7 linked regions of the Homo sapiens genome follow. The protein of the gene in region 1 purifies or fractionates together with the protein of each later gene. This does not show direct contact. Each region holds a gene or a part of one and is shown in the gene's direction. Other genes may lie near its edges.

What was found.
Region 2: the proteins of GFOD1 (region 1) and ESPL1 purify together in Homo sapiens (affinity purification with mass spectrometry; 3 studies listed by BioGRID and IntAct, with this or other methods). This does not show direct contact.
Region 3: the proteins of GFOD1 (region 1) and FBXO9 purify together in Homo sapiens (affinity purification with mass spectrometry; 3 studies listed by BioGRID and IntAct, with this or other methods). This does not show direct contact.
Region 4: the proteins of GFOD1 (region 1) and PI4K2B purify together in Homo sapiens (affinity purification with mass spectrometry; 3 studies listed by BioGRID and IntAct, with this or other methods). This does not show direct contact.
Region 5: the proteins of GFOD1 (region 1) and RALGAPA2 purify together in Homo sapiens (affinity purification with mass spectrometry; 4 studies listed by BioGRID and IntAct, with this or other methods). This does not show direct contact.
Region 6: the proteins of GFOD1 (region 1) and BCAT1 purify together in Homo sapiens (affinity purification with mass spectrometry; 3 studies listed by BioGRID and IntAct, with this or other methods). This does not show direct contact.
Region 7: the proteins of GFOD1 (region 1) and SBF1 purify together in Homo sapiens (affinity purification with mass spectrometry; 3 studies listed by BioGRID and IntAct, with this or other methods). This does not show direct contact.

The regions. Positions count from the first base shown.
Region 1 is NC_000006.12:13,369,101-13,372,600, reverse strand, and holds part of GFOD1 (glucose-fructose oxidoreductase domain-containing protein 1 isoform 1 precursor), read left to right. Parts: intron 1-3,500.
Region 2 is NC_000012.12:53,274,799-53,278,298, forward strand, and holds part of ESPL1 (separin), read left to right. Parts: intron 1-18; coding exon 19-212; intron 213-1,821; coding exon 1,822-2,061; intron 2,062-2,284; coding exon 2,285-2,429; intron 2,430-2,671; coding exon 2,672-2,810; intron 2,811-3,022; coding exon 3,023-3,162; intron 3,163-3,500. UniProt on the Homo sapiens protein: Caspase-like protease, which plays a central role in the chromosome segregation by cleaving the SCC1/RAD21 subunit of the cohesin complex at the onset of anaphase. During most of the cell cycle, it is inactivated by different mechanisms.
Region 3 is NC_000006.12:53,068,404-53,071,903, forward strand, and holds part of FBXO9 (F-box only protein 9), read left to right. Parts: intron 1-2,569; exon of another isoform or gene 2,570-2,620; coding exon of another isoform or gene 2,621-2,653; coding exon 2,654-2,740; intron 2,741-3,500.
Region 4 is NC_000004.12:25,275,533-25,279,032, forward strand, and holds part of PI4K2B (phosphatidylinositol 4-kinase type 2-beta), read left to right. Parts: intron 1-1,481; coding exon 1,482-1,655; 3' UTR 1,656-3,500. UniProt on the Homo sapiens protein: Together with PI4K2A and the type III PI4Ks (PIK4CA and PIK4CB) it contributes to the overall PI4-kinase activity of the cell. This contribution may be especially significant in plasma membrane, endosomal and Golgi compartments.
Region 5 is NC_000020.11:20,506,645-20,510,144, reverse strand, and holds part of RALGAPA2 (ral GTPase-activating protein subunit alpha-2), read left to right. Parts: intron 1-3,500.
Region 6 is NC_000012.12:24,827,102-24,830,601, reverse strand, and holds part of BCAT1 (branched-chain-amino-acid aminotransferase, cytosolic), read left to right. Parts: intron 1-704; coding exon 705-779; intron 780-3,500.
Region 7 is NC_000022.11:50,454,536-50,458,035, reverse strand, and holds part of SBF1 (myotubularin-related protein 5), read left to right. Parts: intron 1-924; coding exon 925-1,002; intron 1,003-1,362; coding exon 1,363-1,544; intron 1,545-1,640; coding exon 1,641-1,820; intron 1,821-2,453; coding exon 2,454-2,555; intron 2,556-2,626; coding exon 2,627-2,812; intron 2,813-2,893; coding exon 2,894-3,020; intron 3,021-3,091; coding exon 3,092-3,222; intron 3,223-3,293; coding exon 3,294-3,500. UniProt on the Homo sapiens protein: Acts as an adapter for the phosphatase MTMR2 to regulate MTMR2 catalytic activity and subcellular location. Promotes the exchange of GDP to GTP, converting inactive GDP-bound Rab proteins into their active GTP-bound form.

The DNA.
Region 1 (3,500 bases):
GAATGGGAAGCCCCTTGCCCAGACTCCCAGGGGTACCATTTGGATCAAGTGTCAGCCCCACCAAAGCTCTGATCTGTCCTGAGATAGGAGCAGAGACTCAGCCACAACTTGGAGACCCTGAGCTTGGAGGATATAAGGGGAGCAGCTGCCTGAAGGGCTTTAGGGTCTCTGGGCTGGAAACTCTTCCCTATAGCACAGATTTCTCAGGAGGGCCATGAATATTTTGGCTCGGTTACAGAGAACACATTCAGCAGGCTTCGGAGGGAGCTGATTTTCCATTTCCCCATGAGGGATCTCAGGAGGGCAGTAAAGCTTCTTCTGAAATTATTTAACTTAAAAGCTTCTGATGAAGATCAGGCACACTGCCTTGCACATAGCACTCTAACCCGTCAGAAGTTTCCCACGGATCTCATTTTGCTCCTAATTACAGCACGGCAACATAGGTTGGAAGGTATCTCTCAGCTCCACCATTTTAAAGACAGATAGCTTCGCTTTATTTGCTGCTGAGAGGATATTGTCTTAAAATTTTAAGTTGGTTCAAGCCCCAAAGCCTTCAAAAGACCCAGCTTTAGCTCTTTGTTCTCACACAAAGGGCTGCCTGGTCTTTGTGGAGTGAGTTGTGAAGGCCTCCCCAGAAGACTCAGGCCAGTCCTCGTGTGCTTTCTGCCACTCACCCGTGGTCACACTGCATCACATTGACAGATGCGGCAACCCTCCAAGACAGCCATTTCTGGATGCAGGGACAGAGCCCTCAGGGGGGCGAGCTGAGCATGGAGCCGTGGCGTGATGGTTCACAGTCCTGGATGGATGCAGCAGAGTGACCCTCACCCATCATACCCGCATGTGCACAGAAAGCCCCTCCCGTTCCTCTACCACCATTGAGAGCACCAGGGGACTTTGCCAGACCTCTCCCACCACTTGGGAAATGTTTGGGGCTTGGCAAAACACAAAACATACTTTCTCAGGCACTTCTTGTTTTCATGGTTTTCATTTTTCACTGCCTGTTAATCTGGAGTGAAATAGAGTCCATATGTTCCAAGTCCCTTTGCCTAATTCTCTGCAGCATGATTTTTATCTCTGAAATTGTTTGAAGTCCCAAAGTTTTTGATCTTTTTGCCTCAGAAAGTGGGCACCACATTTTGCCACAAGAGGATGTAAACCTGAGACCTAAAGAACGTGTGTTGGCCTGGTGCTCCCAGAGGTGTGTGGACTCAGCATGGGACAAGTGGCTCCCTTGTCTTTTCAGGGAAGTTGTTCACCTAGGAGTAAGAAAGTGCAGATGGCCTCCTTAGGCTGTGCACAGTGACCTAGGGCAGTATTCTTTTCTCATGGCAAAAGGGGGAAAGCCTTTGTAGGTTTCTCCATTAGGAAATTAGCCATGGCTGTAAAGGGCTTATAAGAAAACAGGGCCTCTGCCTCTGCCTGAACCCCTCATTTTCTGTCTTCCCGGTAGAATCTACTTACCCTCAAGTCAAAGAAATGTCATAGCCACGTGCTTAGAGAAGAGTGCAAGACTGCCTCTACTTATTTCCTACATTAAATGGGAGAGAGTGCTTTTCTCTAAAGAGCCATTTTGGTGCTTTCTCCTATGCTAAGACAGATGATTGTCATGAGAAGATCAAATACCTGTGGTATTTGCTGGAGAGCCGAGTCCAAAGCCCAGGCTGACAGACAGGCAGTTTGCAGAACAGGTACCTGTGTGCTTTCTTCGGGAGAAATCCCAGCATACAGTGAATGGCATCTGACACACCCAGGATTGTGGGGTATGTCAACCACACACTCAGACAATGCAAGTTCCCTTTACGTTGCACGTGGTTTTAGGGATGAGAGGAATGCTCTGTGCCACACTAATCCACCTACACACATACATACATACACACACACACACATAAACACATATACACACACACACAGTGTCTGACTAGAAGTCTATACTTAGAATTGTGCTCCTTTAGCAAGAACCTTTTGATAGCGAAGATTTGGGTGGGGAAAAGCTGGAAAAAGAAAAAACCTGAGGATCTTGAGGATCTCAGAGTGGGCTTTTCAGAAGCCCACCGAGAGAGGTAGGGTAAGGGAAGACTGTCCAGAATGCAGAGAAAACAAACTTTGCTTAGCAATTCGTGAAGGGTCTGCTGGCTCTGCGTTTTGGGTTCCTTTTGGAACTGGAAGGATTATCTTATTTTTAACAATATGTCCCAAAGCCTTTAAGAATTTATTGTGAATGTATGATGATGCCTGGGCCTCAGAACCGGAGGGGATCCGTGCATGGGCTTCAGGTTGTGGCAGAGTTTTGTGCATCTGTCTGAGTTGCATGTTTTGGAGAGAGAGTCCACAGCTTTCAGTAAGAATCATAAAGAGGTCTTGAGCAAATGGAGCAAGAAGACCTGGCAACAGAGCCCGGGCTTCTGAAGCTTTCAAGATTCAGGGTCAGCAGAACCTTCTACCAGCTCTCTGGGGCTCAGGAACTGGGATGGGCCCATGAGAGCTGGGACCTGCCAGCTCCCCTAGACTTTGGAGGACCCTTTTTCCATTATTGTGAGTGCTGTCCTTCAAAGGTCTTCCTGTCTCTTTGTGGATTTTTTTAATTAGCTTTTTTTTTCTGACCATAAAATTACAAATTTAGAAAATATGGAAAAATGTGAAGAAAATAAAATCAATCATAATCCTACTAATCCAACCACTCCTACTAATCAGAGTAAACCTCCTAGGGTTTTTCTTTTTCTTTTGTCATTTCAGAGAGGGTTGAGATCATATATGTCTATGAATAGAGCCCTTTTCATTTAACATTACATCATAATCATCTTACTTGCCATTGAAAAGTCTCCATAAGCATCATTTTCTATGGTTGCACAATATTCTATTATATGGCTGCATGACAGTTGACTTAACCCTTTTTCTGTTGGGTATTTGCGTTGCTCATAGTTGTTTTGTTTTTTGTTTTGAGACAGGGTCTCACTGTCACCTAGGCTGGAGTGCAGTGACACAGTCATAGCTCACTGCAGCTTTAAACTCCTGGGCTTAAGTGATGCTCCCACCTCAGCCTCCTAAGTAGCTGGGACTACAGGCATGCATCACCACGCCTGGCTTTTTTTAAGAAATGGGATCTTGCTATGTTGTCCAGACTGGTCTCAAACTCCTGGCCTCAAGTGATCTCCCCAAAACTCCAGAATTATGGGCGTGAAGCCACTGCATCCAACCTCTGTTCCCAGTTTTTTGCTATAATAAATAATGCAGTCAAAACTATCTTTGGGCAAGAAGCCATGCTTGCATATTGGATTAGTTCTTTATGAGAAATTCCTAGAAGTCTCGTTTGACTTTTGAAGATATCGTGTGTTAAGATGTTGCCGAGACCCATCTGTAAAGCATGAATGTTGCAAAAGACTGTGGGCACAAAGGTGGGGCAGGCAACAAGGTTTGCTGGGTTCCTGCTGCACACTGGATGCACCACAGGGTGCTGTGGGTATTAATGGAGACTTAAGCATTAAACAACCCAGCCCTTA
Region 2 (3,500 bases), on another chromosome or scaffold:
TTCCCTTTCTCTGGTCAGTTGCACAGGTGCTTCCGGCTACAAGTAGAGAGTTTGAAGAAACTGGGTAAACAGGCCCAGGGCTGCAAGATGGTGATTTTGTGGCTGGCAGCCCTGCAACCCTGTAGCCCTGAACACATGGCTGAGCCAGTCACTTTCTGGGTTCGGGTCAAGATGGATGCGGCCAGGGCTGGAGACAAGGAGCTACAGCTAAAGTGAGTTGAGGGCCAGACGCAGTGGCTCATGCTTGTAATCCCAGCACTTTGGGAAGCCGAGGCGGGTGGATCACTTGAGGTCAGGAGTTTGAGACCATGGCCAACATGGTGAAACCCCGTCTCTACTACAAATACAAAAATTAGCTGGGCATTGGCCGTGCACAGTGGCTCACACATGTAATCCCAGCACACATGTAATCCCAGCACTTTGGGAGGCCGAGGCGGGCAGATCATGAGGTCAGGAGATCGAGACCATCCTGGCTAATACGGTGAAACCCCATCTCTACTAAAAATACAAAAATTAGCTGGGCGTGGTGGCGGGTGCCTGTAGTCCCAGCTACTCGGGAGGCTGAGGCAGGAGAATGGCGTGAACCCGGGAGGCGGAGGTTGCAGTGAGCCGAGATCGTGCCACTGCACTCCAGCCTGGGTGACAGAGGGAGACTCCATCTCAAAAAAAAAGTGAGTTGGGGAGGGGGTCAACCATGTTTCTCCCATGGATAGGGTGGCTTTTGGTACTCATGGTCATGTCCTTTCATCTTTATGTCTGAAAAATACTAATTCCTTCATTCATTAGTTATTCATTGAGTGCCCACTGTATGCTAGCCACTGTGCTACTTGGGGGGTATAGTGGTGACAGTGGTCTTGCTTTCATGGAGCTTATATTCTACTTGGGGAGATATTTTTAAAAAGTACATTTTGCATTTTGTGTCTGTTCCTTTTTTTTTTTTTTTTTTTAATAGAGACAAGGTCTCACTATGTTGCCTAGGCTGGTCTTGAACTCCTGAGCTCAAGTGATCCTTCCACCTTGGCCTCCCAAAGTGCTAGGATTACAGGCATGAGCCAGTGCGCCCAGCCTTCACGTATGCTCTATGAAGACAATTAAACTGATTTGCTAAAAGAGGGAGCAACTTGAGGTGGGTTATTTAGGAAAACCCTTTTTGAAGAAGTGATAGATGAGACCTGAGGATGTGAAGGAATCTACTTTGTAAAGATCTCAGGGAGCCTGGGCAACAAAGCGAGACCTTGACTCTACTTAAAAAATATTAGCCGAATGTGGTGGCATGAACCTATAGTCTATTTACACTTGGTTAGGAGGCTGAAGTGGGAGGATCACATGAGCCTGGAAGATCAAGGCTGTAGTGAACCGTGATCACGCTATTGCACTCCAGCCTGGGCAACAGAGTGAGACTGTCTAAAAAAAAACAAACAAAAAACTCAGGGAAGAGAATTCCTTGCAGAGAGAGTAGTAAATACAAAGGTTGCAAAGTGGGAACAAACTTGGGACCATGCTTGAGAAAGCCGGCATGCTGGGGGTAGTAGAATAGCGGTATAGGATGGGGAACCATATGGAATGAAGGTGGTCAAAGTGGGAAGCGGCCAGATCACACAGGGCCTTATAGGCCATGGTCAGGGCTTTGGAAATGATTCCTAGTGGGAGCCCACTGCCGTTTGTTAAACAGAGGAGCAATGCAATCTGATTTAAATTTTTAAAGCCATGACTGGAAACCTACTGAGCAAGCCAAGGCTGGGGCTCCTCAGCATGGGAGCAGGTAGCAGAGGCTTTATGCCTCCTGGGTTCCACCCTGGTGCTGAGCATGCCCTCTCTCAGGACTCTGCGAGACAGCCTCAGTGGCTGGGACCCGGAGACCCTGGCCCTCCTGCTGAGGGAGGAGCTGCAGGCCTACAAGGCGGTGCGGGCCGACACTGGACAGGAACGCTTCAACATCATCTGTGACCTCCTGGAGCTGAGCCCCGAGGAGACACCAGCCGGGGCCTGGGCACGAGCCACCCACCTGGTAGAACTGGCTCAGGTGCTCTGCTACCACGACTTTACGCAGCAGACCAACTGGTAAGGAGTAGTAGCTGCAGAGGCCACTCTTGCTCCTTGCCCTAGGTCCTCTCACCCTCTTGAGAACCAGTTTCCCTCTCCACAGCCCTGAGCTCTCCCTTCATCTTGTGGCCATGGGAGCACATGCAAAGGGCGAGGCCAGCTGTTCTGCAGCTAGCCCTTCCCAGGGCGCTATGGCAGATACTCATAGTAGGCCCAGCTTAAGCACATCTTCTCCCTGCAGCTCTGCTCTGGATGCTATCCGGGAAGCCCTGCAGCTTCTGGACTCTGTGAGGCCTGAGGCCCAGGCCAGAGATCAGCTTCTGGACGATAAAGCACAGGCCTTGCTGTGGCTTTACATCTGTACTCTGGAAGCCAAAATGCAGGAAGTGAGTGTGGCTGCTGTGGGGCTCACCAGAACTGGGTGTAGGAATTACTGTCCCTGGGCCCCCAACAAGTTGGTATCAGCCCTTTTTTTTGTTCGTTATTTTTAGAGATGGGGTCTCTCTGTTGCCCAGGCTGGTCTTGAACTCCTGGGCTCCAACAATCCTCCCACCTCAGCCTGCCGAGTAGCCAGGACGATAGGCCCACACCACTGTGCCCTGTTTTATACCCCGATCTTCCCATCCAGGGTATCGAGCGGGATCGGAGAGCCCAGGCCCCTGGTAACTTGGAGGAATTTGAAGTCAATGACCTGAACTATGAAGATAAACTCCAGGAAGATCGTTTCCTATACAGTAACATTGCCTTCAACCTGGCTGCAGATGCTGGTGAGGGGTAAATGGAGTGTGGCATGGGCATCTCCATGGCTTCCTAAGAGTGGAACAGGGACCCCTGGTGAGGGAAACCCTGACCTTGTAGGGTAGGAGGTTGTGGAAGCAGTGGGAGGTTGGCGTAAAGGGCAGAGGATGTTATGGAGGAAGGGAAGTTCTCTCCAGATGGCCCATGCTGAGACAGCAGTCATTTTCTTCTGGCTTAACAGCTCAGTCCAAATGCCTGGACCAAGCCCTGGCCCTGTGGAAGGAGCTGCTTACAAAGGGGCAGGCCCCAGCTGTACGGTGTCTCCAGCAGACAGCAGCCTCACTGCAGATCCTAGCAGCCCTCTACCAGCTGGTGGCAAAGGTAATGGGGTGGGGCATTGAGGGGGACCCATATAAACAAGGACTAGACCAGAAACAGCTCCCTCGCCTTCTTTGGCCTGTGATCCTCCTGAGAAGCCATGAAAGCCAGTGATGGAAGCGCAGGGCTGTATCACCAGTCTTATTTTAAATCCAAGCTCCCTCATTCATTAGTGTATGGCCTTGGGCAAGTTGCTTAACCTAAGCCCAAGTTTCCTTATCTCTAAAATAGGGGCCATGCTACTGCCTCGTGGCGTTATTATTCAGTGCAGCAGTGCATGGAAGAGGTATTGTGTAAATGGTATGCTCAAATGTTAGCTTTAGTCTGGGCAACACGGCGAA
Region 3 (3,500 bases), about 40 Mb from region 1:
CCAAGTCACACACAGTAATTCCAGTCTAGCTTTATTCCACTGAAGCCGATCCAATATATAAAAATTGGATTTATAGACAGATAAAATAGAAGGGGTTTCTTTACAAAAGCATTTACTATTAAAAGTCTTTGACTAAGCTTTCCTAGTACATATAAAATACACAGAAGTCATATTTTCATAGAACACATTTAATAACATGCTAGCTGTATAAAAGAAGTGACATCATCTTACGGAATATATATATATATGTGTTTTTTTTTTTTTTTTGAGACAGGGTCTCTCTCTGTCTCCTGGGTTGGAGAGCAGTGGTGCAGTCTCGGCTCACTGCAACCTGCATCTCCCAGGCTCAAGCAATCCTCTCACCTCAGCCTCCCGAGTAGCTGGGGCTACTGTGTACCACCACCCCCTGGTAATTTTTGTATTTTTTGTAGAGACGGGGTCTTGCCATGTTGCCCAGCCTTGTCTCAAACTCCTGGGCTCAAGCAGTCCTTCCACCTCAGCCTTCCAAAGTGTTGGGATTACAGGCATGAGCCACCACACCCTGCCTGGACTGTATTCTCTTAAGTGATCCATGAAGCAAAAACTATCTGCTACAGCCAGGTATGGCTGCACAAGCCTGTAGTCTCAGCTACTCAAGAGGTGGAGCAGAAGGATCTTTGGAGCTCAGGAGTTTGAGGCCATCCTGGGCTGCATAAGGAGACTCTGTCCCAAGAAAGCAATAACTATTTGCTGAACTCCATAGGACAACTAAATGTTACTATTTTCTGAAACAAAGTTGTTATTTTTAGCCACCTAACAATACATTTTAACCTAGAACCCAGTGGATTTGTTTATTCTACAGTATCAAAAAAAATTCAAGTATCAAGTTATATCTGATTGGTATCATTAAACTTACCTGTGAAGAAGATAACTATAAAGAAGCAATGTTGTATTTCATTAACATGAAACATTAGAGTATTTTCTGTTTTGGGACTTGTAGAAGTTTATGGACACTAAAATTATTTGGGCTTTTTGCCTTAGACTCAATTATGTTTGGAACATCTGTCACAGCACCTTGTCAACTGCATTCTAGAACATTTCTCCTCCTGATGGAAAATACAACATGACCTATGAGGCAGTCTTGCAAAAGAAAAAAGAAATAGCAGAATCTAATCTAGCCTTTCAAGATCCTGCCACAATTTATAGGAAATAAGAGTAAGAGGTCAAAGGAACATATTTATTGACACCTCAGCAAAATCTAGCTTCTACAGAAAAACGACCCAGTTTCATCCCAAATAAATTACAAGAAAAAAGAGTGAGGATTACAAAAGACTTGAGACATATCAAGCAATTACAATGTGGACTTTATTTGAATCTTGATTTCACAAACTGTGAAATATATGTATTTTACATATGACATCTTGAGAAATATGAATACTGTGACTTGATATTTGATCTAAGGAATTACATTGATAATTATTGAAGTTGGGTCATGAGTACTTAGGGATTAATTCTCTTTAAGTGTTTTTCTCATAAAAAGTTTTAAAGTCTTGTAGAACTAAAAAAATACCAAAGATGTTCTAATTTTATTTCATTTTTTTCTAAGAAGAATAATATTTTTCTTTTCTTTTTTCCTTTTTTTTTTTTTTTTTTTTTTTATGATGGGGTCTCTGTCATCCAGGCTGGAGTGCAATGGTGCAGTCTCGGCTCACTGCAACCTCCATCTCTCAGGCTCAAGCAACCCTCCCACCTCAGCCTCCCAATTAGCTGGGACCACAGGCGTGTACCACCACGCCTGGCTGATTTTTTGTATTTTTAGTAGAGATGGGGTTTCACTATGTTGGCTAGGCTGGTCTTGAACTCCTGACCTCAAGTGATGCTCCTGCCTCAGCCTCACAAAGTGTGGGGATTACAGGTGTGAGCCACCGCACCTGGCCAGAAAAAGAGAAAATAATTTTTATTATAGATTATCAGTAGTTATGTATATTAATGAAGAATTTGGCTTCATTTACCTAATTAGATTAATCATAAATCATTTATGAATAGTAATAGACTTGAATTGTTACTTTATATTACACAGTTGGCCCTCTGTACCTGCAGGTTCTGCATCCTGGGATTCAACTGTGGATCAAAAATATTTGGGGGAAAAAAAGCAATACAACAATAAAAAATAATACAAATTAGGAAAAATATACTACAAGAACTATTTACATGGCATTTACATTATAAGTAACCTAGAGATGACTTAAAGTATATGAGAAGATGTGCATAGGTTATATGCAAATATGCCATATGAGGGACTGGAAAACCCAGGGATTTTGGTGTCCTGGGGGCTCCTGGAACTAATCACCTGTGGATACTGAGGGACAACTGTAATTAAATTGATTTTTGGATGGATGCAACTGATGTTAAATTTGGCGGGGGGGAAATGTTAGGATTCACAATAACGTGAGTACTGTGGGTTGGAGTAGAGAATATGCTTTTCAGACTCATTTTCCTTTGGAAATTAATAGTAAGGTCTCAAGTGCCCCCTACAGCCTTGCTACTCAAAGTGGGTTCCACAAAGTGTTGACAGTATGGTACTAAATAGAAAGTGGCTGAATGAGAAATGTAGATTGCAGAGGGCAACTGGTGTGTTTATATGCCTGACATTATTTGGGTTTTCCCCCCTCAGGCAGAAGCTGAGGAAGATTGTCATTCTGATACTGTCAGAGCAGATGATGATGAAGAAAATGAAAGTCCTGCTGAAACAGATCTGCAGGCATGTTTCTTCAATTGTGTCTTTGATTTTTATTCCATTGTTCCCATACATATGCAGAAATTGATCATAATCATGGGTATTTGTAGGTTATTACTGTTTGCATGGAATTTAACTGTTTCCATACTGGTTTATAGAATACTTAAAACTATGTTATGGCTTTCTTTGTGAAAAGAAATATCAATAATGGTTGCTTGTAGTTTAACATGGGTTTAAAGTATTCAAACTAAGGCTTACGCATGACTCAAAACCCATAATCTTAAAAAGATTGATGGGTTTGACCACCTAAAAGTTTAAAACCTGTGTATAAGAAAAGGCATCATAAATAAAGTTAAGAGAAATAGCCAGCTGGAAAAACTGTTTATTATATATGGGCAGAGGATTCATCTCATTACATAGAGCACTCATATATTTGGAAGAACAGAGGATAAAAAGATATGAGTGGACTGTTAATGGCAAAATAATACAAATGGCCATTAAATATTTGAAGAGATAATTAGCCTCATTAATAATTTAATCAGATTGGTGAATAATGTGCATCGCTGTCCAAGCTGTGAGAACACTCATGCAGTGTACATGAAAATGTAAATTGGTACAGCTTTCTGGAGGGCAGACTGGTGATATGGATCAAAATGAAAAACATGCATTCCCTTGATACAGCAATTCTACTTCCAGGAAATTAATTTTAAGGAAATAGTGGGGAAAGTAAATATGCAACTATAAAGATGTTTAGTATAGCATTGTTTATCTGGAAAAACATCAT
Region 4 (3,500 bases), on another chromosome or scaffold:
GCCTCTAGGCCCAGCTACTCTGGAGTCTGGGGTGGGAGGATCGCTTGAGCCCAGGAGGCAGAGGCTGCAGTGCACTGTGATTGCACTCTGCACTCCAGCCTGGGTGACAGAGCAAGACCCTGTCTCAAAAACAAAACAAAACAAAACAAAAAAAAAGAAAATGTTAAGGGAAGAACTTAAAAGTGATCCTAAAACATAAACATAACCTATAACACTGTTACTAGTAAAGATCTATTTTCCTGATGTGTTAAATGCTCCAAATATTCTACAAACTAAAATCATCTAGTTTGGCCAGCTGTGGTGGCTCACACCTGTAATCTCAGCACTTTAAGAGGCCAAGGCAGGAGGATTGCATGAGCCAGGAGTTCAAGATCAGCCCTGGCAACATAGCAAGACCCCATCTCTACAATCAATCAGTCAATCAATCAATCAATCAACCAACCATCTAGTTTATACTATTTAAAGTATTATGAAGTTTATTTATTAGTATGGCTTTATGTGGAAACATTTATGCTTATCACTATTGACTAGTCTTTACAAGAACCAGTGAAATGCATAGGATGTATATATTAGATATTTTCAAATACCTGAAGGAGAAATCTGTATTTCTAAAATATACAAGAAAGGACATTTTTCCTAATATGCAGGGAAAAAAGAAGATGAACTGCTATAATTTTATTTGACCTGAACAGAGACCAGAATAATCTATGTATTGTGTTTCATAACCTTATTTGCATGCCCAAGTAGAAATTCCCAGAGTATCTTTGAACATGATATGTAATATATTTTACTTTCCCTAATTTTATTTTTCTTAAGAGTAAACTCTTAAATGTACCTTTATTTGAAATGACTGCCTTCCCAAATTCTCTAACCTATTTGCCCTGCTTCATGCTTTCCCATAGCAATTTCACCTTCTAATACATGGCATAATTTACATATTCATGTTTATTGACTCTTCTCCCTGCTAAAGTGTAAGCTCTACGAAGGCAGCAAGTTTGCTTGTTTTTTTAACTATTGTATCCCTAGCACTTACAGCAGAACCTCGCACATAGTAGGCATACAATAAATTTGTTGAATGAATGGATAAGGCAAGTATTTAGTTAAAACCAGACTGTTTAAACCAGTATTTGTTGAGTTTTTATGTTAAATTGAATATGTATGTAGACCTCTTCACTTACCGTTCTTTGATTCCATTGCTCCTGGACATAGGCAGGATATTCTAGAATATTTTAAACTTACCATCTGGCAAAAGTTATTTAATGCTAATTGTGTGTGTGTGTGTGTGCGCGTGTGTGTGTGCGCGTGTGTGTGTAAACATACATTCATATAATACATATTTATAACAGGTACTTATCTTCACAGTCTCTGTTGCTCATAAATGGATGAAATAAAAATTATAATGAATAAATGGTTTAAAAAATGTCAGTGAAGTGAAGCTTTTTATCTTTTTAAATTGGTAAAAATCTCTCTTCTTCCCACAGATCTTAAACCTTACTCAGGCATTGAGAGACGGGAAGAGTCCTTTCCAGCTAGTACAGATACCTTGTGTGATTGTGGAACGCAGTCAAGGTGGAAGTCAGGGTCGGATTGTCCACCTGAGCAATTCCTTTACCCAGACTGTCAATTGCAGGAAGCCATTTTTTTCCTCCTGGTAGTAAATGTCAGAGTAAGAGAAACAAACTGTTTAGAATTATCATGTTTTTAAAACATCATAGTAATATAAATCTGCTGTTAGGAGCTCCAGTTGCTAAAACCTCAATTTAAGTCTTTAAAAGGTTGTATTTTGAATGTAACCAAAAGTTTACAGTTTTTTGTCCAAATATTAAATTTCTATTTCAGGGAAGAAGTGCTATATCTCCTATATTGTATTTTTGTAGAAAATTTGTATTTTATGTTGTTGTTAGTTTAAAAGGTAATTTTACACATGCTGGAATGACTGTAATTACTCTAGAATTCCAAGTAGAATACAATAACTTTTAATATTGAGAAGAATGTTCATGCTAATTCTTCTTACATTACAAAAGGCCTTTGAGGATGCCTACGTCTGAAATTGCTCTTACGAACTTTAATAAAATAGTTAGCTAATAGAAAAACAGGTAAGAATAAAGCAATGTTGCCTTAATTTCAAAAGCTGCTATTTTAGAATTTGAATAAGTACTCCTAAAGTGACCATTATTAGGGACCAGAAAATTATATCTTGGCTAAGTAATAGAGGACCATTTTGGTTTTTGTACTTGAGAATATTTTTGGTGAATTACTTTGTTGTAGTGAGGAAAAAACCTAAGAAATTTCCCCTTTTTTTAAAAAATGGAAATATTCAATTGAGACTTGAGGGGAATAATAGAAAATTAAGGTAGATCCCCAATATTTTGGAATACCAAAATTGCCTTAAAAATTCCCTTCTGTTTCTTACATGGGATCAAATACTTGAGATTAGTACTTCAGAGTACTGGCCTTGTTCAATTTAGTACTTCAATTAGTATTAAACTTCACTAAAAAGTAAACCATACTCCAAATTGTATATTGGATTGCATTTTGGGGTCCTAGGTCATACGTTCTTCAAAATTATTATGATTGTACTATTGTACTTGAAATTACAGATGTTATTATAATTACAGTCAAATGTAGACTATCAGGCCAAATTAAAGGGGAGCATGGCAGATAACCATAAAGTCATTTATATTTGATTTTGAAATGTATTTTTGTACTTTATTTTGAATATCATCCATATGTCTGACATTATTGGAATTTGTAACATTGTTAATGCACTAAGTGATTTAAATTCAATTGATGAAGATGTGATTTTACAGAAGCAGAAGTTTCATTTTCTTGAGGCTTAAAACCAATGTCACCACTTGGGCTTAACTGGGTAATTTGTGGTCTAGGCCTTTTGTTTTCTAAGCTTACTATCTTGTGTTTGTTTATTTGCTTTTAATGAAGTATTTTGTGTAGAAGGTTAAATTAGGATGCAAAACAGATCTGCCATTCCTTTTTCCCTTATATCTTCCTTTTGGTCTTCATGGACGAGATGAATGAGGATTCTGCTGCCCTGAGGGAGTTCATTGGAAACCTGCGTTCTCCTACCTCTTCCAACCCTCCATTAGCTCAATTTTGAGATAATGGAAAATTGACTGGAAATTCAAAACTCAAACTACTATCTTTAGATATAAACACTAGTAATTAAAATGTGCCTTTTGAAGATGTTTTCTAAGAGAAAGGAAATACGTTGCAGTGATGTGGGTACTGCTTTCATAAAACAGTTTTTTCAGTATTTTGAGAATTGCCATATTAATTTTTATAATGGAAAACTTAATAAATTGCTACTGTTTTATATCATAAAATTAAAATACCATGGTAATATTTGCAAAAGGTCTGGCCATACCAGAAAAGTACAGTTGAGATAGTTAAGATATAACCACAAGTCAGAGTACATTGGTTGTATTTTGTAAACTTTCATGAACTGAATTCTTATTTAAATAGTATGGTTTTTTTTCAATAAG
Region 5 (3,500 bases), on another chromosome or scaffold:
GCTGAATGAACATTTTCACCATTGTGTGTGTTTCAGTGGCTTTGTGATGGTTTTATTGTTTATTTTAGAGTTTTGATCGAAACCCAAAGTGACACATGCTTAAATTTTATTTTCAAGCAAACTCTTGGTTCATGTCACTATTATTTGCATATCACCTTCACAACTGTGATTCTTCTTTGGTGTTTTGAATTCTTGAATTGGATATAAACCCAACTAGCAAAGTCCAGTTGGAATTTTCTTTTAAACACTTGGAAGATTATATTTCAGAAAGGTCCTTTGGTAATGTCACTAAGGACTGAGTAGATAAAATAATATTAAACTTACTCACAGCTATGTATTGTTTCCATCCTTCAGAAGCATATGGTATTAAGATGGATTTGTTTGTATTGACCATTTTGTGGGAATCAGAAGGGCATAAGTTTTCTTTTCTTTTCATTTTTTCTTTTCTTTTCTTCACCCTTCTACTTTCCCACCTGTCTCCCAGGTCACTGAGCGCCTCTTATTGCATCATATAGCTACATACATGTTGAAGCATGAACTGTTTTGTGTATGTTTCCAAGTCTTGGGAATGTGACAGGATGGCTGTTCCAAACCTGATTCCCTCTGCAGAAGGGGACATGAGGGCCTTTTTTCCTAGGTGGCCTTAAAGAGTGATAAATATTTCAGTATCAAATATGCAGACATTTTTTTAAAAACACAAAATTAAAATATTCATTTGTAGTTTTACCTGGATAAAGGAGCCATTCTCTGTCCAGAAGCCTGCAGCTCCATTGCCATTTTAAATGTCTTTGTTTCCTGACTTATCAGGTGAGACAGTAAAAGATTTGAATTTGAATAATTTTTTAAAGTCATTAGAAATGAAAAACCTGAAGCTGCCATTTCTCACCTTGCCCTTCACTGTATTCTGTTTCCTGATTCTTCTTGTGATTCCTTTTCTCTAGAGGAACATAGATCAACTTCTCTATGGAAATTCTGTAAGGGATTTATTCTGAAGAACTCAGGGGTTCACCACACTCTCCCTCCTTCCTTCAGTATTAAATAAGCAGTCATTTGGGTTCCACACTCAGCTTTTTAAGCGTATGCTGAATTATTCCAGGCTTCTTAGTATTAAGTGAATACTTGGTTTCATGTAATTGCGGTCAATTTGTTGAGCGTTAATGCACTTTAGTTGCATGAGGTACAATTGAATTAGCTCCCTGGGGTACTGTTGCAACGAAATATGGCTTTGAATAGCTGAGTGGCAGTCCCCTGCCCCTTGATCAACCTTCACTTAAAACCCCAACTCCTGGATTTAGTGTCTTCTTGACATCAAATGGGTATCAACTTATTTTATGGTGAAGGGTATTTTCAAGATCTTTTTGAAGAAACTAGAAATAAGTCTGGGACTCTTCAGCTATGAGAAATCTAGACTGCCCTGTATTTTGGTCAGGTAGCAGGTAAGAAAATACCTTGTCTGTCAACTTTCATTTAGAACATTTCTGTTTAATTCTGATATCAATGTATCTCACTGCTCTTGATGTATAGTTCCTTCTTAACATGTTCTTTGGAAAAGTTGAGGCTATCTTGCAGCTATGGTCTAGATTGTCAGTGCTATGATGAATGTACATACAAATCACAGTGGGCTTCCCTGTTAGATGTAAATGCCTTCTTGCCACTACATGGGGAGGTGGATGTTAAAATCATGCTTTTCTTTGGCTTTTTCATGTGACAGCACAAGGAAACTGAGCTATTCTGGTCTATTCCTAATAAGAAAGAACAGTGCATTCTAATGAGGAAGGGAAGATTGTTAATTTCATGTATGTGTGTTTCTGAATTACCTGCTCCTTCATGCATTGGTGTGCTTCTTATGGATGTGAAGTGCTGTTGATGTTGCTAATTATCATTTCAAAAGCATGGCTTTAATAAGGCCAGACACAGCTTCTGCATCCTAGCAGGCTCTCTGTGGTACTAACATTTTGGAGAATGTGAAATTTGATGAATGTTTACAACTAAAGGTCATCTTTCCTCACACTCACATTGGTCAGCCCATCATTCAGGCTTAGCTCTCTTGTGCTCTCACATTGAGTTAATGAGGGCTCAAGGACTTAGGAACAGCTGCAATGGAAACAGCTTAGATTTTTAAGGAGAATAAACTGAAACATTGTAGATAAACCTGAGGCTGTTTTTATGTATGTAAAGTCTATAAAACAAAGAAAAATTAAATGCTGAGGAGTTTTTACATATGTAGAGAGACCTTCAGATAAAAACTGAATAACTATACTTCTCCACTTTTGTTGAAAGAGACAGTCTTTTAGGTCATAGGTTATGGTTTCTGTTATTATCCAAGTGCCCAAATTTTTATAGCTCTTGGAATAGGCTAGTTAGATTCTACGCCATTGGTGTCCCCTGCCTGTTGCTCAGGGCAGTGAATGGTGTGGCACTTTCAGGGCTTCCTGCTGCATGAGGACAAGTTTTCTAAATTTATTTTAAGGACATATTAGAGATATTGGGGCTGGGCATGGTGCTCAACCCTATAAAGCCAACACTTTGGGAGGCCAAGGCAGGTGGATCACCTGAGATCAGGAGTTTGAGATCAGCCTGGCCAACATGGCGAAACCCTGTCTCTACTAAAAATAATAAAAAAAATTAGCCAGGTGTGGTGGTGTGTGGTAGCATGCACCTGTAGTCCCAGCTACTGGGACGGCTGAGGCACGAGAATCACTGGAACACAGGAGGTGGAGGTTGCAGTGATCCAAGATCACGCCATTGCACTCCAGCCTGGGTGACGAAGTGAGACTATCTCAAAAAAAGATATTGTGAAAAGATTAAAAACATTAAAGATTATCTTTAAGGATGTATTAAAGATAACGTGAAAATGTCTTTTAAAATGAAAGCAACCTAAATGAAGATTTGGGCCATGACATATTAATATAATGGAATGTTGTTACAATCATTAAACCTCTGTTGTAGAAGCACATGATATAAAAGTGTTCACACTAAAAAAATGGTTGAAATGGTGAATTTTATGATATGTATATTTTACCACAATAAAAAAGTGTTCACAAATATTTTAAGTGAAAAAATCTGTTGTAAAACAGAATGTAGTAGCTTCTCATATGTGCATGCAAAAGTGTATCCTAAAATGGTGTAACGGCTATGTTCTTTGCTTATCCGTTGAAACTGCAAGTGATTTTTATTCTTCTCTTTTCTTTCTGTATTTTCTAATTCTTCTTCCAAGTATGTTTATTGCATATAAACCATAGGGGAAGTGAATAAGCTGAGTAAAAGGAGAGAACTCTCTTCCTCCAGTTATTTGTATGACTTTTTAATTGAGAATCAGTTAGTTCTGATTATTAAGTAGAGAAATAACTCACACAGAAGGAAATCTTAGATAATTTGTTAAAATATGGAACTCAGTTCTACCAATACAATATCTAATCAAATTACAATGTTGAAATACTAAACAAATATTAAAAAATTAAATATTAAATTTGACAGAAAAAATATTTCTGTATTTAAGA
Region 6 (3,500 bases), on another chromosome or scaffold:
ACTAAAGGGTATAATATGAAAAGTGTTTGAGAGCACAGACTATCTCCTAAAATCAAACTATCAAAACCTGCAAGCCAGCAAGGCATGAGTAGGCATGACTCAGATACAAATTAGAAGCATGAAATCTCTTTCAGCCATGCATTTAATCATGCTATCCAATATTGTGGAGGTAGTGGCCCCTGGAAGTTTACCTTGGGCCAGAGATAGGTATAGAAGCCCCTTTTATGAAGTCATAGACTTGCTTTAATTTATGCTCCCAGAATGACTTGCATTAAACTGTGGCAAAATATCTTTGAGTTCTCATATTAGCCAGAGGGTTAATATGTAGAAGACAATCATTCATCCTTACAGATTCTCAGAATCTTGGAAGAGGTAGGGTTCTTTAAGTTTAGCCACTATTTTAGGTAACTGTAGCTCCTCCTTGGTTCTTCAAATGATCCTGAAGGCTGGTATACAAACCAGTTATGCCCTAAAATTAATTGGTAGGTAGGCAATGTATAACCTGTCATTGGCTAGTTTTTATTCAAATTTTGGATATGAAAGTCTTTGGCATAAGGTGCTAGCACTCAGAGTCAGTAGGTTTTAGTGCTATTCCTTAACTTCAGTGGAATTGCCTTAGTATAGCAGAATTGCTTGAGTGTCTTATCTGTTATCACCATATACATGAGTACCCTCAAATTATCTCATTTCCCTTTCTTTTGTAGACAATACACATTCCAACTATGGAGAATGGTCCTAAGCTGGCAAGCCGCATCTTGAGCAAATTAACTGATATCCAGGTAAAGCTTTTCTTTTCTTTTCTTTTCTTTCCTTTTCTTTTCTTTTTTTTATGTCACCTTATTTCTGTCAGAGCTTACAACTAAATTATATTTCAATGAAGAGGATTAAATAATACAATTTGAGATCAATAAGTTAAATTTAAGGAAGATATTCCCAACACAATGTGTGGGCATGAGCAAAGCAGAAATGGGAAAGAAGATGTATGTTTTAAAAAAAGAAAGAAAATATTGTTCAGGACTCCACATTACTTAACATTAAAAAATAGATGTAATTTTTGGTAACATTTAAAAATCTCATTAAGAAGGATAACATAACTTTTGTTAAAAAAAGGAAGAAAAAATTTGAAAGTAGAAGCAACTTCAGGAAGAAAATTACAGTGCATGTGATTCCAACACTGAGATATAATCACTGTTAATTTTTTATGTCTTTTTATTTTTGAGCTGGAGTTTCACTCTTGTTGCCCAGGCTGGAGTACGATGGCACGATCTTGGCTCACTGCAACCTCTGCCTCCCGGGTTCAAGCAATTTTCCTACCTCAGCCTCCCGAGTAGCTGGGATTATAGGTGTGCGCCACCATGCCCAGCTAATTTTTGTGTTTTTAGTAGAGATGGGATTTCACCATGTTGGCCAGGCTGGTCTTGAACTCCTGACCTAAGGTAATCCACCTGCCTTGGCCTCCTAAATTGTTGGGATTACAGGCATGAACCACTGTGCCCTGCCATTTTTTGATGTCTTAACCTTCAATATTTTGTAAGCATTTATATACTTTATTTATTTATTTATTTATTTATTTATTTATTTACTTATTTATTTTTGAGACTAAGTCTCGCTGTGTCACCCAGGCTGGAGAACAGTGGCATGATCTCAGCTCACTACAACCTCCACCTCCTGGGTTCAAGCGATTCTTCTGCCTCAGCCTCCCGAGTAGCTGGGATTACAGGTCTCATGCCACCGTTCCCGGCTAATTTTTGTATTTTTAGTAGAGATGAGGTTTTGCCCTGTTGGCCAGGCTGGTCTTGAACTCTTGACCTCAGGTGATCCACCCGCCTTGGCTTCCCAAAGTGCTGGGATTACAGCCGTGAGCCACCATGCCCAGCCAGTATACTTTTAGATAGTTATTTTTTCCTAACAAAATGGGATCATATTGTACATAATTTTGTTACATGTTTTTTCACTGAATAAATGCTTTGCTTTTTTATATCAATAAGTAGTTTTCTCCAACACCATTTATAAAGTTTAATTGAATTCCATTATATTGATGTACCATAATTTTTTTAAAAAATTATATTATTGAACATTTATGTTGTTGGCAATTTTTTTTTCACTAGTATGGACAGTACATCCTCGATTACTTCCTAAGGATAAATCTGGGATCAAAGAGTATACACGTCTATTTTTTCATACTGCTAACTTTGTTTTGCCTATTTTTTTTCTGAGCAATAATCTACAGTAATGCCTCATCAGGCAGTTAAGCAGGCATGCTAAATACCAGATAACACTGGGCTACTCAGAAAAGAGATTATCCTGTAATTTGCAAGCATTTCACAAGTTAGAAGACTTTGTTGAAGCCAGTTACTATCCTTGTCAATTAGTAAAAATATCCAAGAGGGCCTGAGACTTACATTGAAAAGTAAAATAAAGTTTGATCATTTGAGTGATGTCGGATGGCATTAAGTCATGAAACTAAGTGAAACTTAAAGGTGGCTGAGAATGCAACAGGCCTCCAGAGAGCAATGGAGGTCCTTGGGTAGTGATAAAAATGGCATTTCTGGCTGGGTGCAGTGGCTCACACCTATAATCCCAACACTATGGGAGGCCAAGACAGGAGGATCGCTTGAGGCCAGGTGTTCAAGACTAGCCTAGGCAACATAGTGAGAACCTTCCTCTAAAAAAAGGGAAATAAAATAAAAATAAAAGTTTAAAAGAGAGTTTAAAAGGCAGTTTTAAAAGAGACTTACTCAGCAAGTTTTCTGCCAAATTTACAGTATTAAAAAGAAAGAAAGTGTGTTTTTGTTTCTGTTTGTTTTTTTGAGACAGAGTCTTACTCTGTTGCTCAGGCTGGGGTGCAGTGGTGCAATCTCAGCTCACTGCAACCCCTGCCTCCTGGGTTCAAGTGATTCTTGTGCCTCAGCCTCCCACACAGCAGGGATTATGGGCATGCACCATCATGCCTGGCTAATTTTTGTATTTTTAGTAGAGTCGAGGTTTCGCCATGTTGGCCAGGCTGGTCTCAAACTCCTAGCCTCAAGTGATTTGCCCACCTTAGCCTCCCAAAGTGCTGAGATTACAGGCATGAGCCACCGCACCCTGGCCTTGATTGTGGTTTTTTAATCAATGAGCTGCCATACTTCTGCTCTCCAGCAAAGGTTTTCTATGAGAATTTTCTGTAAGCTAAGTAAAGGAATATCTTAATATTGGAAGAAATAAAATTTAGTCAGAGTTGTTTTCTACCTTTGTACACAGCAACACTTACAAGTAATTTGAAGAGTAGCTAATAAAAATTTCTGCATGGATGGCTTAGGCATTTTAATTTTTTTAAGGTTGCCTGAGTAAATCTGAAAATAATAAATTATTACAGTTTTGCTCAAATAAAGAACACAAATAGAACAAAAAATACATAACTGGCTAGATTACATGAAAGCCTTTTTCCAAAACAGAGGTTTAGAGGCCAGGGCAAATAGGCAGGAAAAATAAATAAAGGGCATCCAAATTGGAAAAGA
Region 7 (3,500 bases), on another chromosome or scaffold:
GAGCCACTGCGCCTGGCCAGCTCTGACCTTTTTACAAGGATACACTGGGCCCTGGTTGGCGTCCAAAGCAGGCTGGTGCTGCGTCCTCACTGTGAGCTGGGCGCCTGCAGTGTGGCAGCCGTCAGAGGACACAGGGCGTGTTGGGCTGGCATTGTGCTTGGCCTGTAGTGACCACTTGGTGGACGAGGGGACATTGCCTCTCTCAGTCCCACCCTCGGGCCTTGCAGAAGCAGGTGAGCCTGGGCAGGGCCAGGCGCCCAGAGACCCTCTGTGGACCCCAGGCATCTCCCAGCCCTTTGGGCTGCCAGTCCTCCCTGTGCCTTCAGGCCACGTCGTCTGGACCGTAAACCTCAGCCTGGGACTCAGATCTGCCTGTGTCCTGGACTGAGCTGCTCTCCGTCCTTTTGGACTGGGCTCAGGCTCTGAGCCCACCCTCTCCCCTCTTCGGGAAGCCTCCAGGTCGCCTCTTCTCCAGGCCACACCTCTTGGGCACCTCCTGTTGCTGTGCCCTGGACAGAGGCGTCTACATGCTCATGTGTGGAGCGTTCTGAGCTGTGCCCATCACAAGCCCTGGCCCCCTGAGTGGAGGACAAAGGGCCAGGATGTGGAGGGAGGGACTCAGAGACAGACTTGCTCTAAGCTGGTTTGAGTGGGAAGAAAGGAAGTGTTAGAGGAGAGCCCGGGATCCCCACCGCATAGCCCTTCTGCTGCCACGGAGTGCTCTGCGGCCTGCCCTGCCCTGGCAGAGAGGCCCACACCAGGATGGCTCTTCCCACTTTCCTGCGATCAGGGACTTGGGGCTGACCCCTGCTGTCTCCAGGCTCCCTGGGGGCTTGGTGGAACCCTCTGACCTGTAGGCACCCCCAAGCTGGGCACGCCCAGGCCTGGGGCTAGGCCTGAGCCTTCTCTCTGCTGTGCCCTCAGTTCCCAGCCCCAGAGCCAGGGTCACCACGCTGTCCAACCCCATGGCGGCCTCGGCCTCCAGACGGACCGCACCCCGAGGTACCGTACCGAGCCTGCGCAGGCCCGCCTCCCCTTACTTGGTGCTGGCGGCCTCTAGTGTGCACTGAGTTATTGCGGGCACTAATGTCTCCCTCCACACCTGACACTAACGACCCGTCTCCCGAGCCCCAGTCCTTACCTCCCTGACCCGTGAGTCCTGCCCTAGAAACTAACACTGGCTGCCACCCCACGTCTCAGAATCTGTGTGTTCCAGCCCTCCTCTCGCACGGCCCTGCTGGGGTCCTGCCAACCACCCCTGCCCTGGGAGCTCAGCCCCCTCCCTGGAGGCCGGGCCCAGCCAGCCCCAGGTAAGTGGTGCCCTGGCCCCCTTTGGGTGCTTACCTGGCATCTCCTTCACAGGTAAGTGGGGCAGTGTCCGGACCAGTGGACGCAGCAGTGGCCTTGGCACCGATGTGGGCTCCCGGCTAGCTGGCAGAGACGCGCTGGCCCCACCCCAGGCCAACGGGGGCCCTCCCGACCCGGGCTTCCTGCGTCCGCAGCGAGCAGCCCTCTATATCCTTGGGGACAAAGCCCAGCTCAAGGTGACTGGGGTGCGGGGGGTGGGGGGTGAGGGTGGGGGCTCGGCAGGGGGCTTGGGGCCTCATGTGTCTCACGGGACTTGTCCGGATTCTTTTCAGGGTGTGCGGTCAGACCCCCTGCAGCAGTGGGAGCTGGTGCCCATTGAGGTATTCGAGGCACGGCAGGTGAAGGCTAGCTTCAAGAAGCTGCTGAAAGCATGTGTCCCAGGCTGCCCCGCTGCTGAGCCCAGCCCAGCCTCCTTCCTGCGCTCACTGGAGGACTCAGAGTGGCTGATCCAGGTCTCTGCACTGCCCCGTCCCTCTGCCCGCCTTGGTGCTGGGCCCTCCCCTTGGGTAGAGCCAAGTGGACGGGTCTAGGTTTGCTTGTCTGACAGTGTGGAGCGCTGGAAGGAGGAGGTGACAGCCACTTCCCACCCAGGCTCTGGTGCCTAGAAGGCAGCTGGGAGGCTGGGCCTGGCTGGGGCCAGCTGACAGTGAGAGTGGCCAGGGCTTGGGCATGGGTATGTCGGAGCAGCCTGCTGGGCCCACGTGGGCTGATGACCACACGGGGGATGCAGTTTATGGTTCTGGGCCCCTGCTGCATTCTCTCGGGGGTGGGTACTGACAGGATGCTGGCTTGGTAAACACTGGAGGGCTTGAAGGTAGGGCCACCGGCATCTTGAGGGACAGGGACGTCCCTCAGTCCTAGAGGGCTTGGAAGGGGGTGGGCTGTGACCAGCAGGCTGGAGGCGGTGGTCGGCACACCCAGAGCGAGCTGTGTTTGTCCAGTGCTCTGCCCGCATACAGGGCTTGGGGGGCTGTGGACAGGGCCTGCCTCCCCGCTGCCTGTGGACATGCGGGTCTCTGGCCTGGTGAGTGGCCAGGCGGGAGGGCGGTGGGTCCCCGAGGTGCTGAGGCCGCCTGTCCCTGCAGATCCACAAGCTGCTGCAGGTGTCTGTGCTGGTGGTGGAGCTCCTGGATTCAGGCTCCTCCGTGCTGGTGGGCCTGGAGGATGGCTGGGACATCACCACCCAGGTGTGTGGCGCGTGGGGCTGGGGTGGGCCAGGCTCCCGGGCTCCTCGCTGACCTCCTGGCGGTGCTGGCAGGTGGTATCCTTGGTGCAGCTGCTCTCAGACCCCTTCTACCGCACGCTGGAGGGCTTTCGCCTGCTGGTGGAGAAGGAGTGGCTGTCCTTCGGCCATCGCTTCAGCCACCGTGGAGCTCACACCCTGGCCGGGCAGAGCAGCGGCTTCACACCCGTCTTCCTGCAGTTCCTGGACTGCGTACACCAGGTGGGCAGGCCGCTGTGTGGGTGGGCCGGGACTGTGCACCCTGACCGCTGAGCCCTGGCCCCTGACCCACATGGCGTGCAGGTCCACCTGCAGTTCCCCATGGAGTTTGAGTTCAGCCAGTTCTACCTCAAGTTCCTCGGCTACCACCATGTGTCCCGCCGTTTCCGGACCTTCCTGCTCGACTCTGACTATGAGCGCATTGAGCTGGGTATGTGGGGAGTCGGGGCTGGGGCAGCCACGGGTCAGGAGGGGCCCAGGCTCAGTGCTGCTTCTGTGCAGGGCTGCTGTATGAGGAGAAGGGGGAACGCAGGGGCCAGGTGCCGTGCAGGTCTGTGTGGGAGTATGTGGACCGGCTGAGCAAGAGGACGCCTGTGTTCCACAATTACATGTATGCGCCCGAGGACGCAGAGGTAAGCTGGGGCCTGGGTCGGGTAGGCGGCTCCTGCCCGACCCAGGTCCTCAACCACAGGCCCACCCTCAGGTCCTGCGGCCCTACAGCAACGTGTCCAACCTGAAGGTGTGGGACTTCTACACTGAGGAGACGCTGGCCGAGGGCCCTCCCTATGACTGGGAACTGGCCCAGGGGCCCCCTGAACCCCCAGAGGAAGAACGGTCTGATGGAGGCGCTCCCCAGAGCAGGCGCCGCGTGGTGTGGCCCTGTTACGACAGCTGCCCGCGGGCCCAGCCT